Homo sapiens: one gene and its partner. Each later gene encodes a partner of the first gene's protein in a complex. Links are inferred from orthologs where the notes say so. Each region holds a gene or a part of one and is shown on either strand. Other genes may lie near its edges. The genes, in order: DUSP6 and MAPK1.

Region 1 (8,290 bases):
TTTCCAAACTGATACCACAAATACAGAGCTGAAATCTCTCTTTGGCTCCTCTATATGCAAAATTGAATTAGTCTTCATTGAAGACAATTATATAGTCAGTTCCAGATGCAAAAGGAAACAGCCTTACAAGGCCCTAAAGAACACATGCTCCTACCCTATCATTTGGTTCTACCCTATGCGCCTGGAAGTCCTCGAATCCCAGTCCCTGCATGGGTAGGCTGTACACATGGGTACAGAGCAAACCTACTGCCTGTATCTATACAGCATGTCCTGTTATTCCAAAGAGAATGGAGCAAATCTCTCTGTTAGTATTAACCAATTCCGCACTTGGTAACCTTGTCTAGTACAGACAGCTGGTGTCATTTTGACACCTGGGGCCACACACAAAGAAAGCAGCCCAGCTGATGCTGCCAAGAGAAACTGCTGAAGGGCCAGACACATTCCAGCAAGGAGGGGTGTGGGGTCTTTCACGTAGATTGCAGAGAGTCCACCTGGTATACATTCTGGTTGGAAGGGGTGGTAAAATACAGCTGCTGTGCTGGAACCCTGTTGTCACATGGGCTGCTGAGTCCCAGCGTCCTCTCGAAGTCCAGCAGCTGACCCATGAAGTTGAAGTTAGGGGATATGTTGGATTTTTTCATTTTGACAATGTCATAGGCATCGTTCATCGACAGATTGAGCTTCTGCATAAGGTAAGCCACAGTCACAGTGACTGAGCGGCTAATGCCAGCCAAGCAATGTACCAAGACACCACAGTTCTTGCCCCGGGCTTCATCTGTGAACACAAAAAGAAAAGCAAGATCTCAGCAGACTGAAAACCACCCTTTGTGAATGATCAGTCTAAAAACTGAACTTGAAAACATAATAATAATAATAGTTGTGTGTGGCAGTTGAGCCCTACAAGCAGCAGAAAATGTATCACTGAAATGAAACATGTACACTGGACACAATTACATATTTCAGATATTTTCTGAAAAGAGAGCTTTTGTATTAAGTTTCTGCCAACAAAAAACTCCTTAATGGGTGCATTCTTTGCCTCGGCATGTGAATACCAGAAACCCTGCAATATGTTCGTGAATGCCTTTTACACAGACAACCAGACTGCAAGGGTCTATTAAATTATGCTCCAAATGTTGTGCAGCTAACAATGGAGGTATTCAGGCATTTTAAAAGAGAGAGGGAAGTCACAGGGGACGGCCCATTAGGAGGAACAGGATGTCGACACGGCCTGAAAATGAGTTCCTTTGTAATAGGAAATGCATTACAATGCCTGGAGATTCACTTCTCCCAGGCTTCCAGCCCACAGTTCTTCCTGCTGGGCTCAGGTTACCCACTGTCTCACTGTTACCAGTATCACCGCATCATTCAACTGGATAACATTCAGCATTCATACTGCTTTCCAACAACTAACTTGATGTCCTAAAATAACTCCTAGATGTTTTTAAATTATAAAGCAATGCTGGAATTCCTGTCTATAGTGAGTACTTCTATCTGACCCTTCCCCTGAGTCCAAAGACTGGGGGGAAAAATCTGTTGTCCGATTATGAACGACTGTCAATGACTGAATTCAAAGATTCAAGAAACAGCGTTTCAAATACACCTGTGATCTGCAGCCATGTCAAAAGGCAGGTTTTCTTCCTTTAGCAAGAAGATAAACCAGAATTAAGGACGCTCTAGGAACATTAGAGACCTGCAGTCAGACAAATTAGCAAGCAGCAAGAACGATTAACAGCTTAAACTCTATGAATGGCTAGGAATTTTGCATTTAAATGTCAGAGCGACGACTATTAATTAGTCTCACCTATGAAAGAAATGGCCTCAGGGAAAAACTGGGACAGGTTTTGGCTCCAGTGATCCGAGATGGGGATTTGCTTGTATTTAAACTCTCCTGCGTTCTCAAAGAGATTCGGCAAATTGGGGGTGACGTTCAAGATGTACTTGATGCCGAATTCCTCCAACACGTCCAAGTTGGTGGAGTCTTTGGCACAGCCCAAGTAGAGGAAGGGCAAGATCTCCACTGGGAAGGAAGGCTGGCTGTTGGACAGCGGACTACCATCCGAGTCTGTTGCACTATTGGGGTCTCGGTCAAGGTCAGACTCGATGTCCGAGGAAGAGTCAGAGCTGATCCGCAGGCCCCCGAGCCCCAGCACTGGCAACGGCGGCGAGCTGCTGCTACACGAGCCGTCTAGATTGGTCTCGCAATGCAGGGAGAACTCGGCTTGGAACTTACTGAAGCCACCTGCCAGAACGAGAAAAGCAATCATCTAACCTGAGAAGCCGTAGTAGTTTTCACAGCTTGTAAGAACCGCAGCCCGGCGCAAGAAACACCACAAGCATCCTACGAACCCCCTACATACAGAACCATCTATAAGAGAAACACACTTTAAATGTGCACCATCGGGAATGGAACGAACGGGCCCGCCTCGCCAGGGAACCCTTATTCGCTTGAATCCGGAAATAGACAAAATGGCAACTTTTTGGAATATTTTGAGAGCTAAGATGTGCCAATTTGCATCCCCAACAATCTCTCCCGTCCTGCAAATCTTAATTCAAAATCGAACGATAGAAAACAGGGTGATGGTGGAGGATGTTCTGGCTAAGAAGGCGCAGAACCCGTTAGAAAGAAACCGCCGGTACCCGCAGCCGGAAGCGAGTGGATTCTGAGCCGGCCCGGTTCTCTGGTGCGGAACGCGCGGTTCGCGGCCCCTACCTCGCCGGCTGCCGGTCCCTAGGCGGGCAGCGCGGCTCCGAAGCTCCAGCTGAGCGGAGCAGAGGTATTTTCAATCCACGCGCCCCGCCCGCAGCCCTGCGCCCCTAGCCCTGCCCCGCGCGCGGAGTTCCCTGGGCGCGTACCTTCCAGGTAGAACGCCCGGCAGCCCTCGTCCTTGAGCTTCTTGAGCAGCAGCCCGAGCACCGACTCGCCGCCCGTATTCTCGTTCCAGTCGCTGCTGCTCTCGTCGTAGAGCACCACTGTGTCGGTGCCACAGCGCCGGGTGAAGCGGTCCCGGTCCTCGCCGCGCGTGAAGAGCGCGCGCACCGGCAGGTTACCCTTCTGCAGGCGCCGCAGCATGATGCCCGGGATGGCCACGTTGATGGCCGACTCGATGTGCGACGACTCGTATAGCTCCTGCGGCCGGCAGTCCATCAGCAGCAGCCGCTCGTTGCCCAGCTCCAGCTGCTCGTTGAGCCACGCCACCGTCTTGCTGATCGCCATTTCCGACGCGAAGGGCACGGGTCTGAGCGTATCTATCATGGGGGTCGAGCTGCGGGAGAGGGCGGGGTGCCTACCAGACGCCCCTCGGGGCAGGCATAGGCCGAGCGCACCGCGCGCGAAGCTGCCGCTCTCGGAGCGGGGTTTAATTCCGCCTCGCCTTACCCAAGCCGAGGCTAGCGGTTGGGGCAGACGAGACAGAAGTAAAGCCGGAGGTTCTCTCTGCACCCAGCTGCAGCCGCTGGCTCTTAGTGTCAATGAATCTCTCTCAATGAAGCTGCCCAGATAGTTTTTGTTCCTCCCCAGTGAATGAAATCCAATTAATTCGGACTCCGTGCTACTGAGAGGGGAGGAAAAAAAGTCTAGCGGCTTCTAATCCCTCCCTCCAAGGCTGCACCTCAAATCTACCCGGGCGTCTTTCTCCCCGGATTATTTAAGACTCGATTTGCTATCTCTTGGACTCAGCCTCGCACACCCCCTGCGCGAGGCAGCTCCTCAATGGATACAAACAGCGAGCGTCTCAATGGATACATTCTCCGGGCCAGCCAATGAGCGTGCTGCGGAAGGGGCTGTTGCCGTGGGGACGGGCCGGCTGGAACAGGTTGTGTTGATGAATTGTTAATGAGTTTGTCATTCACAAAAACGGAAAGGAATTTCCGCTCCGGATAAGCCCCAGTGCAAACAAGCTGCAACAGCGGGCTCGGCGGGAGGAAGGAGAAAGAAGGGGAGGCGGCAGCGGAGGAGGAGCAGGGCACATAAACCAGGGCACTTCAGTTGTCTCATGTTTCCTTCTGTTGAGAGTTCACACTTCGCGTCGGAACTTTTGCGCACCAATGGCGCAATTAGCATGCACAAAAGCCCTTGTTCGCGACGCTTGCGTTCGCGAGCTAGCTTTAGGAAAACTTGTGCTGACTTTTCGTTCTTTGTATTCCCTTCAAACTCATTTGGACCCAAGTTCGCCTTAACCCTCCCCTCCCCCAACCCCCCTTCTTTAGGCGGTGTGTGGCATTTGTTTGCCACTTTTAAAGGCCCAGCTCTGTTTGCTCTGATGTTCTTTTAGCCGAGGCTGTGTTGGGGCTGGTGAACTGACTGGGCTTTAGTGACCGATGAGGTGTTAAATGCTAATCCAACATATTTCGAAACAAACCAGGATTTTGTTGAAACATTTTAAAGCAAACAAACAAACGTCTGGTTGTGCAGAAAATCAGAAGAAAACCTTTTTTCTTAAAATAACATTTTATTTTCATTAAAACAATGTAGAGTGCAGAAACAAACTCTTAGGTCAGTCCAGTGCTTTTACTGTATTCCGCTCCGGCGGCGTGGGGAGTTACAAGCCATTGTTCGGGGGAATCTATATCTCTCCCCCCGCCCCACCACCACCATCGCCTGCTGGGAGGTCGCGCTGGTTAATGATTTCTGGGCAAGGAGCTCGGCTTCTGACGGGGGAGCCGGTCTGGCGGGGCTGCCTGAGCGAGGTGTGCTGGGACGCGCCGGGCCGGGCCAGCAGTCCCCGCCATGGGCGAGGCGTGAGGAAGTCCTCCCGCAAGACCTGCAGGCTGCGGGGGCTCGGCAGGGGGGCTCGACGATTGGTTACAGTTGGCAGGGAGGCATGTCAGAGGGGGCCTCCCCAGCCCTCTCCTGCCGCCGCCTCCTCCCTTTGTCCAGCGCCGGGCACTCCGGGGAGCACCAGCCGCGCCTGCGCGCTGCGCTCCCTGCCACCGCCCCGCCGTCCCCGTCTCCCCGCTTGGGCACGGGGCTGTGCGCGACGCAGTGGACGGGTGCGGGGCTCAGCGAGGGACTCCCGGGTCCATAGAGATCTGGGGAGGGTGGGGGGAGCAAGGACGAGTGCCTGCCGGGACCCCCCTGGCTCCTCGCTCCCAAGGAGTCGAGGGGAACGTCTCTACCGCGCTGCAAAGCCAGCAGGTAACTTTGGGGAGGTGCGGGCCAGGCCAGCGAGCAGCACTCGGCCCAGGCGCCGCGGGGCGGACGGATTGGAAGCCGGATGGAGGCGTGGCCGGGTGGGGGCCGCGGCGGCGGGGAGGCGCGTTCCCGGCGCGCAGAGCTCTATTGTTATATAAAAGTGCCGAAGCCTGCCCCTCCCGAGCGGAAAACCACCTGTGTGCGGCCGGCGCGGCGCGAGAGGGATGCAGCCGGAAGGCGCGGGCCCTAATCCGGCCTTCCCTCCCTAAACCCCGGCGGAAAAGAGGCCGCGCTTTGTCCCACCGCTGCCTGAGAGGCGGAAGCGGGGGCAGCCGTCCGGCGGGGTGCGGCTTTGGGGAGTGTCCCTTGCTGCGCTTTGCGCCTACCGTGAACACCGCGAGGGCGCCTAAGGTCGCGGGGTCTCCCTTCGCCCGACGCCCCGCACCCACGGGCATGCCTGCTAACACCCCCGCTGCAATTTGCATTTTTAGTCACCCGCCTCTTCCCTGGTTTGGGAAATGTAGGCTAAAAAAAGGCGGCTGCGAGGCCTAGGTTGCCAATTTTGGAGCTCTGCTTCAGGCAGGCCGCCCCTGGAGGAGCGTGTTCGACAAAGGTGGGGATTGCCGAGCTCCTCTCCGCACCATTTTTGGGCAGTCCTTGGAACAAAACTCGTATATTTCACTGGGTATCTTCTAGTTTCAGCCGGGGGAGGCCTGCGCTGGAGTTGACTCCCCCTGTCCTCCACGATCTGTCACAGAAGTTCCCACCCCGAGACGTTTCAGTCATTGGGACCTGGGGACAGGGAGGGAAGAGGCAGGATGCCCTTCAGCGGAACTGAGAAGAGCAAACCTGTTGGAGGTTCAGCACAGGACCTCCAACAGAAGAGAAAGGGAGGGAAGTTGGGTTTCTACTTTGCCTGTTTTAATACGCAGCTACTTGAGTATGACTATAGATTCGGGAGGATACATCGAAACTGTAGTTTTACCCATGCTTCTGAACTTTATCGCCAAGGGAATGCCAGTGTTTCCTGGCGCATTGATTAAAGTGGCGTTCTGACTGCTCAGTACTAGAAATGCTGCGAAAAGGGCTTCTGGAGTGGGACGGCCCTCGTTTGCATTATGTCCCCCGCTTCTTCCTAGGTAAGCGCCCTTAGTTAAATCATTTAGCCGTTCTAAGTTGCAGTCTTCCACGTCGGCATAACGAAGATAAAACTATCTGCTTCATAGGGTCCCTGTGACGACAAAATGGGTACGGTGAAACGTCCTAAAGTGGTGGTGGGGTGCTATTAGCCGTTGGAATTAATTTTTCATTCTGAATTGAGGACCTGTAAAAAGGCCTCGGCTTGGGGACACGGTTTGGGCATCCCACAGATGCCCCTTGAGGCTCGCTTGACAGCCCGCCTGGACTCGCTCATCTGCAGCAAAGCCCTCTGAGATACTACCCTAACCGATTTAATCCGTTCCAATTCAGCTGTCAAGTAAAGGGGGTGTTATCGTAGACCAGGATCAAAAATCCTTTAGCACAGTTATCAGAATGGACCCAGCTACATTTCTGATTTCTCCCTACTGGTCACCTTTGGAACACGCTGTTCTCCAGCCACAGCAAACTGATACAACAATGCATATTGGGCACTTAACTGCATGATGGGTACCGTCTTGTTTCTGTGTTTACTTGCATAATTTCGGACAGTCTTCAGAAAAAACATGTAAATTATCCCATTTACAAAGATTAAAGAATTTGCCCAAGGGCACACAGTAGCAACAGAGTGTCAAGACGTGAGGCCAAACCCTTTACAGACTCTTAAGGATGCCCACATGCACGGATTACATAGAGTGTTATGGACACTATATTCACCTCCACGTGGTATTCCCTGCCCACATGTGAAGAATTTCAAGGTCAGCATTTTGAATTTTGACCTCCAGGCTTTCTCCAGCCTCACGTTTTCTGTTGCATCCTCCATGTCAAAGATCAAAAGCGAGGCTGCTTTCCCTGCTCCTTTTACACACCAGTGGTTTTCTTTGCACGCAACCCTTCATCAGTCAAACATTCACTAAATGTTGCATATTTTATCTCTCTTAGAATATGCCCTAGATCCTAATCTTCACAAGTGTCATTGGTTATCTAGTGCGTCAGCACAGCACATAAGCCTAGGTTCAAACCTCTGTCACTCAGTAGTAGTCTGGGCCTCACTTCATTCATTCATTGATGCATTTATTCTAGATTCCAGGAAAGCAGTAGAGAATAAACAGACAACAATAACCTGCCTCACTGAAGTTTACATTCTAATGAGGACAGTCCAATTAACAAAACAAATAATTATATATTAGAAAGTGAAAGCGCTATAGAGAAAAAGCAAGAAAAGGAATTCGGAAGTGTGTAACATTGGGAATATATATTCCTCCCTCAAAGGACTGTGAGGATTAGACACAACTGAGATGACACACGAGAAGTGTAGGGCACAAAGTCGGTATTCAGAAGATGATTTTTAAAATATCACCACTTCATTCCTGCATAAGGAATGCTGTTGGTGGTGATATTGCCATTCCTGTGAGGCACTGAGGAAAAGCTCTCTTAGGAGATAAGGGCTGTAGTAGTTGGAAGAATTACAGGCTTCCTTAATTCCAGAGGCCTCAGTGCCCTTCAGAGGATATCATTCATATGAAGAGGTCTGTATTTAAAAATTGGAGATAGCAGATCATCTGTGATCCATTCTCATGAGTGCAGAGAAGCACTTTCATAGATTCTTGTTTCTTCCTCTGTGTGTGTGTGTGTGTGTGTGTGTGTATGTATGTGTGCACCGAGCACCTGTGCTTGTGCTTGAATTCCTCCTGGTGTTTCCCCCTGGAAAGTTCCTTAAAAATTGTTAGTTAAAAAAAAAAAATTTTTAAAGCAGTGTATTTTGGTTATAAAATTTTCTCTAGGCCATTTGAGAAACATTCCACTTTTGCAGGAATTTTCCTGAGTTTGAGGGCACTTGAGATTTATAAGATGCAAATGGGCTAGCATGACCTTTAATCTTCTTGGAATAATCTCTGTGAATACAATGACATTTATTAACACATCATGTGAAAACAGTTAAACAGATTTTCAGCAAATAAGGAGAGTTTTGGAAGTTCTGACTTAAAATGTAAATGCATTTAGGGGTCCCAGGTAGGCCCT
Region 2 (8,312 bases), on another chromosome or scaffold:
TTCTGAGATGGAGTCTCACCCTGTTGCCCAGGCTGGAGTGCAGTGGTGCCATCTCAGCTCACTGCAACCTCTGCCTCCCACTGATTCTCGTGCCTCAGCCTCCCAAGTAGCTGGGATTACAGGTGTGCGCCACCACACCCAGCTAATTTGTTTGTATTTTCAGTAGAGACAGGGTTTCACCAAGTTGGTCAGACTGGACTTGAACTCCTGACCTCAGGCGATCCGCCTGCCTCAGCCACTCAATGTGTTGGGATTACAGGCGTGAGCCATGGCACCTGACTGCTGTATACTTTTAAAATATCAGTAAAGGCCGGGTGTGGTGGCAAATGCCTGTAGAATCCCAGCACTTTGGGAGGTCAAGGCGGGCGGATCACGAGATCAGAAGTTCGAGACCAGCCTGGCCAATATGGTGAAACCCCGTATCTACTGAAAATACAAAAATTAGCCAGGCATGGTGGTGGGCACCTGTAATCTCAGCTACTCAGGAAGCTTCAGCAGGAGAATTGCTTGAACCCAGGAGGTGAAGGTTGCAGTGAGCTGAGATCATGCCACTGTACTCCTGGGCAACAGAGCAAGACTCTATCTCGAAAAAGTATAAAATAAAAATAAAAATAAATAAAATAAAAATAAAATAAAATAAAATAAAATGTTAGTCAATTTGTTATGCTTCTGATTCTTTGTGTTAACTTGGGTTTTCAAGACGATGCCTAAATTATGCCACGGCCAACAACTCGTGTGTGTGAGTGTGAGTAGGTGAACAGAATGGCCTTAAAGACAAGTCCATAAACTGGGAAGAGACAACAGAGAGAGTAGTCTGGTTCTATTTGTTTTATTCTTAAAGATGAACACTTTCAAGCAAAAATAAGAGCCAATTCTTCCCAGAAATGTTATATGCTTAAAATATTGATTGAGAATGTCTCTCCAAAAACAAAAGCAATCTGCCATAACAGGGCTATGATGATAACCAAAAGAAAAAAAAAACACGAGGAGACATAAAAATATTCACTGCAAATTTTCAAGACAATCATTAAGTGCCAAAGAAGTAGTACAGCCATCCTAAACATAGCTTTATTCGTTTTGTGCCCACCTGACTCTTGGTTGCACTGATCCAGGTAAAGGAGCTGGTTCCATCCCATGTGGAAAAGACATAAACCTGTATCAGAAGGATCCTAAGAGGGGACAGAGTCCAATCCACACAATATCTGATGAAGGAAGCTGTCCTTTACATCTCACTGGACATTGGCCACCGTGTTCACCCACCGTGACAAAACCCACCGCTTTTTACACACAGTTCTAGAAGGTTCCCCACGATCTACTTGCAACCAACCTTTTTAGCTTAGTGTCGATGACTCCCTATTACTCATCCAATGCTGCAGCCACAGGGAGGAAGACTCAGTGCTTTCGGTAGTAGTCCCTTCCTTCTTATTTTATTTCTGTACTCTCTGCCTATGATACCCTATGTCCAATAGAGCCACTGGCCTCCCGCAAGAAAAGCTACCCAACCTCGAGGGCCGGCACAGATACCACCTTCTTCCTGCTGCCTCCCAGTCCCAGCCAGCGCTAGCCCACCTCTCTCCTTTGCATTTGTACACCATCTTTTTCTCCATCTCAGTTACAGAACATCTCATTATAATCACCTACTGTCTACCAGATTTCTGATCTATCAGTTTTCAGATTTCAAGGGCAGACCCTCATCTCTCTTGTCTGGCGTATCTCAAAGGGCTTCTCATAGGAGTGTCTGTTGAACTGAAATCCAATAAATGATTATTGCTATACATATATATGTACTTAAGCAGCTTTATTAACCTATAATTCACACACCATACAATTTGCTCATTTAAAGTGTATAACTCAATGGTTTTAGTATTATAATGGTGGAAATTAACCATTACCACCATCCAATTTGAAAATATTTTTATAACCTCAAAAAGAAATTCCAGTGAGTTAGTATTCCTTCCTTCTTTATTCTCCCAACTCCTCTAGCCCTAGGCAATCAGTAATCCACTAATTCTAATTTTTGTCTCTATGGATTTGCCTATTCTAGACATTTCACGTAAACAGAATCATACAATATGTGTCTTCTGTGGCTGCCTTCCTTCACAGACATGTTTCCAAGATTCATCCATGTTGTAGCATTATCAGTACTTCACTCCTTTCTCTTCTACTGTGTGGATCCACCACACTGTATTTATTCATCATCAGCTGGACATTTGGATTGTTTCTACTTACTGGCTATAGTGAACAATACCACTATGAAGATTTGTGTTCAAGTTTTTGTATAGATGCATGTTTTCATTTTCACTAAGGAGTGGAATCCTCACCAACACTTATTATCTGACTTTTTAACTACAGCCATCCTAGTTAGCATGAAGTTGTTTCAATGTAATTTTGATTTGCATTTTTCTACTGACTAATGATGTCAAGCATCTATCATTCCATGTGCTTATTGCCATCTGTATATCTTCTTTAGAGAAATGTCTATTCAGATCCTTTGTCCATTTTTTAAACTAGGCTATTTATCTTTTCATTATTGAGTTATAAGAGTTCTTCATATATTCTAGTTTTAAGTCCCTTATCAGATGTATGATTTGCAAATACCTTCTCTCATTCTGTGGCTTGCCTTTTCACTTTTTTGATGGTTTGCTTTGTAGCACAAGTTTCTAATCTTGATGGAATCCACTTACTTTTTTCTTTTGTTGCTTGTGCTTTTGGTGTCATGTCTAAGAAGCTTTGCCTAACATAAGATTGCAAAGATTTACTTCTATGTTTTCTAAGAGTATTAAAGTTTTAGCTTTTAATTGAGTTCTTCAATCCATTTTGAATTTTTTTTTCCTTTTGAGACAAGGTCTCACTCTGTCACCCCAGATGGAGTGCAGTGGTGCAATCTCTGCTCACTGCAATTTCCACCTCCCAGGCTCAAGCAGTCCTCCCACTCAGCCTCCTGAGTAGCTGGGACCACAGGCACATGCCACCACGCCCAGATTAATTTTTTTGTATTTTCGGTAGAGATGGGGTTTTGCCATGTTGCCCAGGCTGGTCTTGCTCCGGAGCTCAGGCAATCCACAGGCCTTGGCCTCCCAAAGTGCTGGGATTACAGGCGCGAACCACTGCACCCAGCCATTTTGAGTTAATTTTTTCATCTTTTTGTATGTGGCTATTCAGTTGTCCCAGATTCATTTGCTGAAAAGACTATTCTTTCCCCAGTGAATGGTCCTGGCATCCTTGCCAAAAATCAGTTGACCATAGATACACGGGTTTATTTACTGACTCTCACTTCTATTCCACTGACCTATATGTCTATTCTTATGCCAGTAGCACACTGTCTTGATTACTGTGTTTTGCAGTAAGTTTTGAAATCAGGAAGTGTATCAGTTCTCCATATGAATTTCCATATGAATTTTGGGATCAGCCTGTCAATTTCTACAGAAAAAAACAACTGGGGGCTTTGATAGGGATTGCACTAAATCTGCAAATCAATTTGGAGAATACTGCCATCTTAACAGTATTAAGTCTTATGATCCACAGACATGGGATGCCTTCCCATTTATTTAGGTCTTCTTGAATTCCTGTGCATTTTTTTAGACTGAATCGACATCGCTCCGTCACATCTAAGATATCCATAAATTTCCCTCGTTTACCTGTAACACCCATTAAAACAGAAATATGTAAATGCTGCATATTTTCAGAACTCTGAGGACTGTAAAGAATTTGGGGTTTTCTTATTTAGTTGGAATGCCTTATTAGGTATTAAAGTCAGTGACGTTAAGTTTTCTGCTGCTATCTTTTGAATAAAATTTATTGAAGAAAAATGTCACCAACAAAACATGATTTTAAAACTAACACATAAGGCCAGGCGCGGTGGCTCACGCCTGTAATACCAGCACTTTGGGAGGCCAAGGTGGGCGGATCACAAGGTCAGGAGATTGAGACCATCCTGGCTAACACGGTGAAACCCCATCTCTACAAAAATACAAAAACAAAGAAAAATTAGCCAGGCGTGGTGGCAGGTGCCTGTAGTCCCAGCTACTCGGGAGGCTGAGGCAGGAGAATGGCGGGAACCTGGGAAGCAGAGCTTGCAGTGAGCTGAGATCGCGCCACTGCACTCCAGCCTGGGTGACAGAGCGAGACTCCATCTCAAAAAACAAACAAACGAACAAAAAAACTAACACATAATGTACGTGATCCTGTTTATCTATATAAAGTATAAAAATACACATGTATGCAAGAGCATAGAAAATACTTTGGGAGAAAATACACTTTGTTTTTTAGGACAGAGTTTTGCTTTGTCACCCAGGCTGGCGTGCAGTGGTGTGATCTCGGCTCACTGCAACCTCCGCCTCCCAGGTTCAAGCGGTTCTCCTACCTCAGCTCCCATGTAGCTGGGATTACAGGCGCATGCCACCACGCCCGGCTGATTTTTGTATTTTTAGTAGAGATGGGGTTTCGCCATGTTGGCCAGGCTGGTCTTGAACTCCTGACCTCAGGTGATAAGGCCCACCTTGGCCTCCCAAGGTGCTAGGATTACAGGCGTGAGCCACCGCAACTGGCCACCAATTTGTTATAGTAGTTAGTTATCACGGCCTGGTGCTGTGGCCCACATACATAATCCCAGCACTTTGGGAGGCCAAGAAAGGAGGACTGCTTGAGCCCAGGAGTTCCAGACCGGCCTGGGCAACATACTAAGACTCTGTCTTTAAGAAAAAAAAAAAAAAGGTATCTCTGGGGAGAAAGGAGCAATGGGATAAGGAAGAAGAAGAGGACTACCACACTTTATTAGCATTTTTGCCATAAACATGTTTTTGGGTATTTCTGGTGTAATTTAAAATATGAATAATGACAAATATAACTATGCTTCAGTGAAAGGGTTTTTCAATATATATCACCTTAATAGTAAATAACCTGGCTGACCTTGAGATCACAGGTGGTGTTGAGCAGCAGGTTGGAAGGCTTGAGGTCACGGTGCAGAACGTTAGCTGAATGGATATATTTTAACCCTCTGAGGATCTGGTAGAGAAAATAGCAGATATGGTCATTGCTGAGGTGTTGTGTCTTCAAGAGCTTGTAAAGATCTGTTTCCATGAGGTCCTGTACTATATATCTGTTTGCACAGGTTAAGGTAAAACACCAATTAGCTGGTCACATTTAGCAAAGCATTGAAAACAAAAATGCATCCTCTCTTGACTCTCTTCCCAAACAGTCCATCATTACACCATGAAGCCCTTAAAGGAAAGAAGAAACTGAGGAAAACTTGGTTTCCTTCATGGAAAGAATCTGAAGTCGTTAACTCCTTTTAGGTCCTGTGAGATGGCAGGCATTCCAGCATTACATCTGACTGATGCGGCTATGGGCCTAGACTGAGATCTGAAACAGGCTGTTAGGGAAATTCTGGTCAATCTTGAAGTCTCAACCTCTTTGCTCTCTAAATTGTCCACCATCAACGAACCCCCTCCAAGGTTTGCTGGAAACACTGTTAGCCTGTAAGTAGCAGATACTCCCTCCTCTGTTTGGTCCAGTAACCTGTAATGTCACTATTCTTTTTACTTCTTGTTGCCGCTCCCCTCCTCTCCCAAGCTCCTCAAAAGCCAAACATAAAACTTCCAGAAATACAGGTCTAGAAACATACTCTTACTAGTAAATCCAACCCTAAGTCTATTTTCTTGACTCTTCCATTACTGTTAAGATCTTAAATAAGTAAGACTATGGGCAAGTCGTTCTAAGAAGGGGTTTGTGCTAGTTTTCCTCCTCATGCTTTCTTGCCTGGTCACGTACTTAACTACCTAAAAGTTTAGCTATGGCTACTTTCTTTCTCACAGAAATTAAATTATTAAAGCATTTAGCCTTTAACTTCATCATAGTATTATTTCATTAGCAGTATTTCTACATTTCTTTTACTCACTTCTGTGTAAACACTAGTCTCTGTTTCTTACAGATTTATGCTATAGGAGGCGCAGCATGGGATTCAAAGGAAACATGATTTAAAAATCTGTCATCTGAGAGAGGCTTATTTTCATGGCAAAAAGTAAAGCAGGACCAACAGGTGGTAGTGGCAGGAGGCATTTCACTTCAAATATCACTACAACTTATTAACAGAGCTGTTTAAAAATGGAAAGGGCTGCCTAGAAACAGCGAGCTCCCGCACCCTGGAGGGGCGGAATACAAATTGGGTAAACTGGTAGGAGTGCTGTATAACCCTTTCCCTTCTGGCAGATCCTCTTCAGTATACTTAACCTCTCTATCTTTCAAATGGAGCCTTTACCCAGGCAGCATCCTCTAGATCTGTTCAGTCCAGATTTCTAAATGTTGGTCAGAGTTAATCACATAATTTCAGACCTCAGTTGACCTTAAAGATCATGACGACCAGTTCCTTCATTTTAAAGGTGGGGAAACTGAGACCTAAAGTGGTAACCTGACTCTTAAGATCAGGACAGTCCTGATTTCACCAGGTAGATAGCCAGGGCACCCTCTTTCTTAGTCTACTACTGATCTTCCCTTTACCTTTTCATCATCACAACAAACCATCCCTTGGACAGAAGAAACATGACTGCAAACAGAGTTAACCAAGATTTTCCATGACTAGACTTAGGGAGTAAATAGCAAACAGATTACGATTTTCCCTTTAGCATGTTTAATGCACTTTTCCTTTAAGTTCAGGAAATTTCAAGTTCTATTTACTCAACAAGGTTACCAAGCAGTGGAATTGGCCAGTTGCCTAAAAAGGATACACATCTTTCATTTGCTCGATGGTTGGTGCTCGAATAATGTCATTGATTCCAATGATGTTCTCATGTCTGAAGCGCAGTAAGATTTTTATCTCCCTCAGGGTTCTCTGGCAGTAGGTCTGGTGCTCAAAGGGGCTGATTTTCTTGATAGCTACTCGAACTTTGTTGACATTATCATAAGCAGAGCTTAAAAAAGAGAGAGAGAGATGGCATTAAAAACAGCCCTCAGAATATTTGAAGAAGGCAAGTTGGTAAAGTATTATATTTTTAACACTGTGTAAACACCTGTTTCATACCCGTGAAGGCAGCATGTATATTATCCACAAAAAGGCCTCAAGCTAGGGAGGATGGATGCAACTGACATGAGAGAGCACACAGTGACTCTCAAAACTAACAGAGAACCTAGCCCTGTTAACTGGGTGAAAGTCTTGCCTTTATAAACCCAGAAATACACAAACAAGCATTCTCCCATTGTCTTAAACAGCAACTGCATTCTGGTGAGAGTAATCACTTCTGTCTCTGAAACACCTTCTTACTGTTGTATCAAATTCCTCTGACACAGAAGAAACATTCAAATAACCTACAACTGTACATCTTTATCCCTAACAAAAATGGACCCAAGAGAACACCTTGATTACTTCTATTAACTTTGTTTCTCTCACTTGCAAAACAACATGACCATTTCTTCCCCCAAGAAACTGAATCAAGATGTTTGGGTAGTTTTATAACAAAACCTAGAAAAGTATTCTTCAAAAAACATATTTGTGGCAATAACATGGGGCCCAGTTCTTTCCTAGTTGTCCTTAATGTCTGATAAACCAGAATTATAAGCAAAAGCAATAATAAAAATTATACCTTCAATTTTATGAATTTGAATCTTGAGTATTACTACTATCTTTATGATAAACATTCTATTACAATCTTGTGTATAAGAAATTTTCATATTAATAAATGTCAACATCTGGCCCACTGACCAAAGCAATCAAATAACATTGACAGGCAGTAAGACAACATTTCTTGTTTCCTTGGGGTAAGTGCTAGAATAGAAAGCAGTAAAATAACTTTATTCTAAAATTTATGCTTCTAGGGCCGGGTGCAGTGGCTCACACCTGCAATCCCAGCACTTTGGGAAGCTGGGGCGGCTGGATCACTTGAGGACAGGAGTTTTGAGACCAGCCTGGACAACATGGTGAAACCCCGCCTCTACTAAAAATACAAAAAAATTAGCCAGGCATGGTGGCAAGTGCCTACAATCCCAGCTACTTGGGAGGCTGAGGCACAAGAATCACTTGAACCTGGGAGATGCACGTGGCAGTGAGCCAAGATTGTACCACTGCACTCCAGCCTGGGCGACAGAGTGAGACTCCGTCTCTAAATTAAATAAAGTTTATGCTTCTATAATATTTATCAGTCTACTAATCCTAAGAATTATTGATACATTTGTCTGATTCTATGACAAGATAATGCTCTGGAGGAGAACTTTGTCTTACTAGGATCCAATTATCCTACAACACCATTAACATATAGTACACAGGTGGCCCCAAATGCTTTGAAATGAAGTATATTTTCTTAAGTAAAATAACCACTACTCAA

What was found.
Region 2: the proteins of DUSP6 (region 1) and MAPK1 are in contact, whole or in part, in a crystal structure (PDB 2FYS), measured with the Rattus norvegicus proteins. The link is inferred for Homo sapiens from one-to-one orthologs. Residues at the interface, in NP_446335.1 of Rattus norvegicus: Arg64, Arg65, Leu66, Gln67, Lys68, Gly69, Asn70, Leu71, Pro72, Val73, Arg74; in NP_446294.1 of Rattus norvegicus: Glu79, Glu107, Thr108, Leu113, Gln117, Leu119, Asp122, His123, Tyr126, Phe127, Gln130, Thr157, Thr158, Cys159, Asp160, Tyr314, Asp316, Asp319.

The regions. Positions count from the first base shown.
Region 1 is NC_000012.12:89,348,787-89,357,076, forward strand, and holds the start of DUSP6 (dual specificity protein phosphatase 6), read right to left. Parts: upstream 3,716-8,290; 5' UTR 3,254-3,715; coding exon 2,854-3,253; intron 2,240-2,853; coding exon 1,802-2,239; intron 776-1,801; coding exon 468-775; 3' UTR 1-467. Other genes in the region: POC1B-DUSP6 readthrough, read right to left, coding at 704-775. UniProt on the Homo sapiens protein: Dual specificity protein phosphatase, which mediates dephosphorylation and inactivation of MAP kinases. Has a specificity for the ERK family. Plays an important role in alleviating chronic postoperative pain.
Region 2 is NC_000022.11:21,800,942-21,809,253, forward strand, and holds part of MAPK1 (mitogen-activated protein kinase 1), read right to left. Parts: intron 6,906-8,312; coding exon 6,723-6,905; intron 5,099-6,722; coding exon 4,909-5,098; intron 1-4,908. UniProt on the Homo sapiens protein: Serine/threonine kinase which acts as an essential component of the MAP kinase signal transduction pathway. MAPK1/ERK2 and MAPK3/ERK1 are the 2 MAPKs which play an important role in the MAPK/ERK cascade.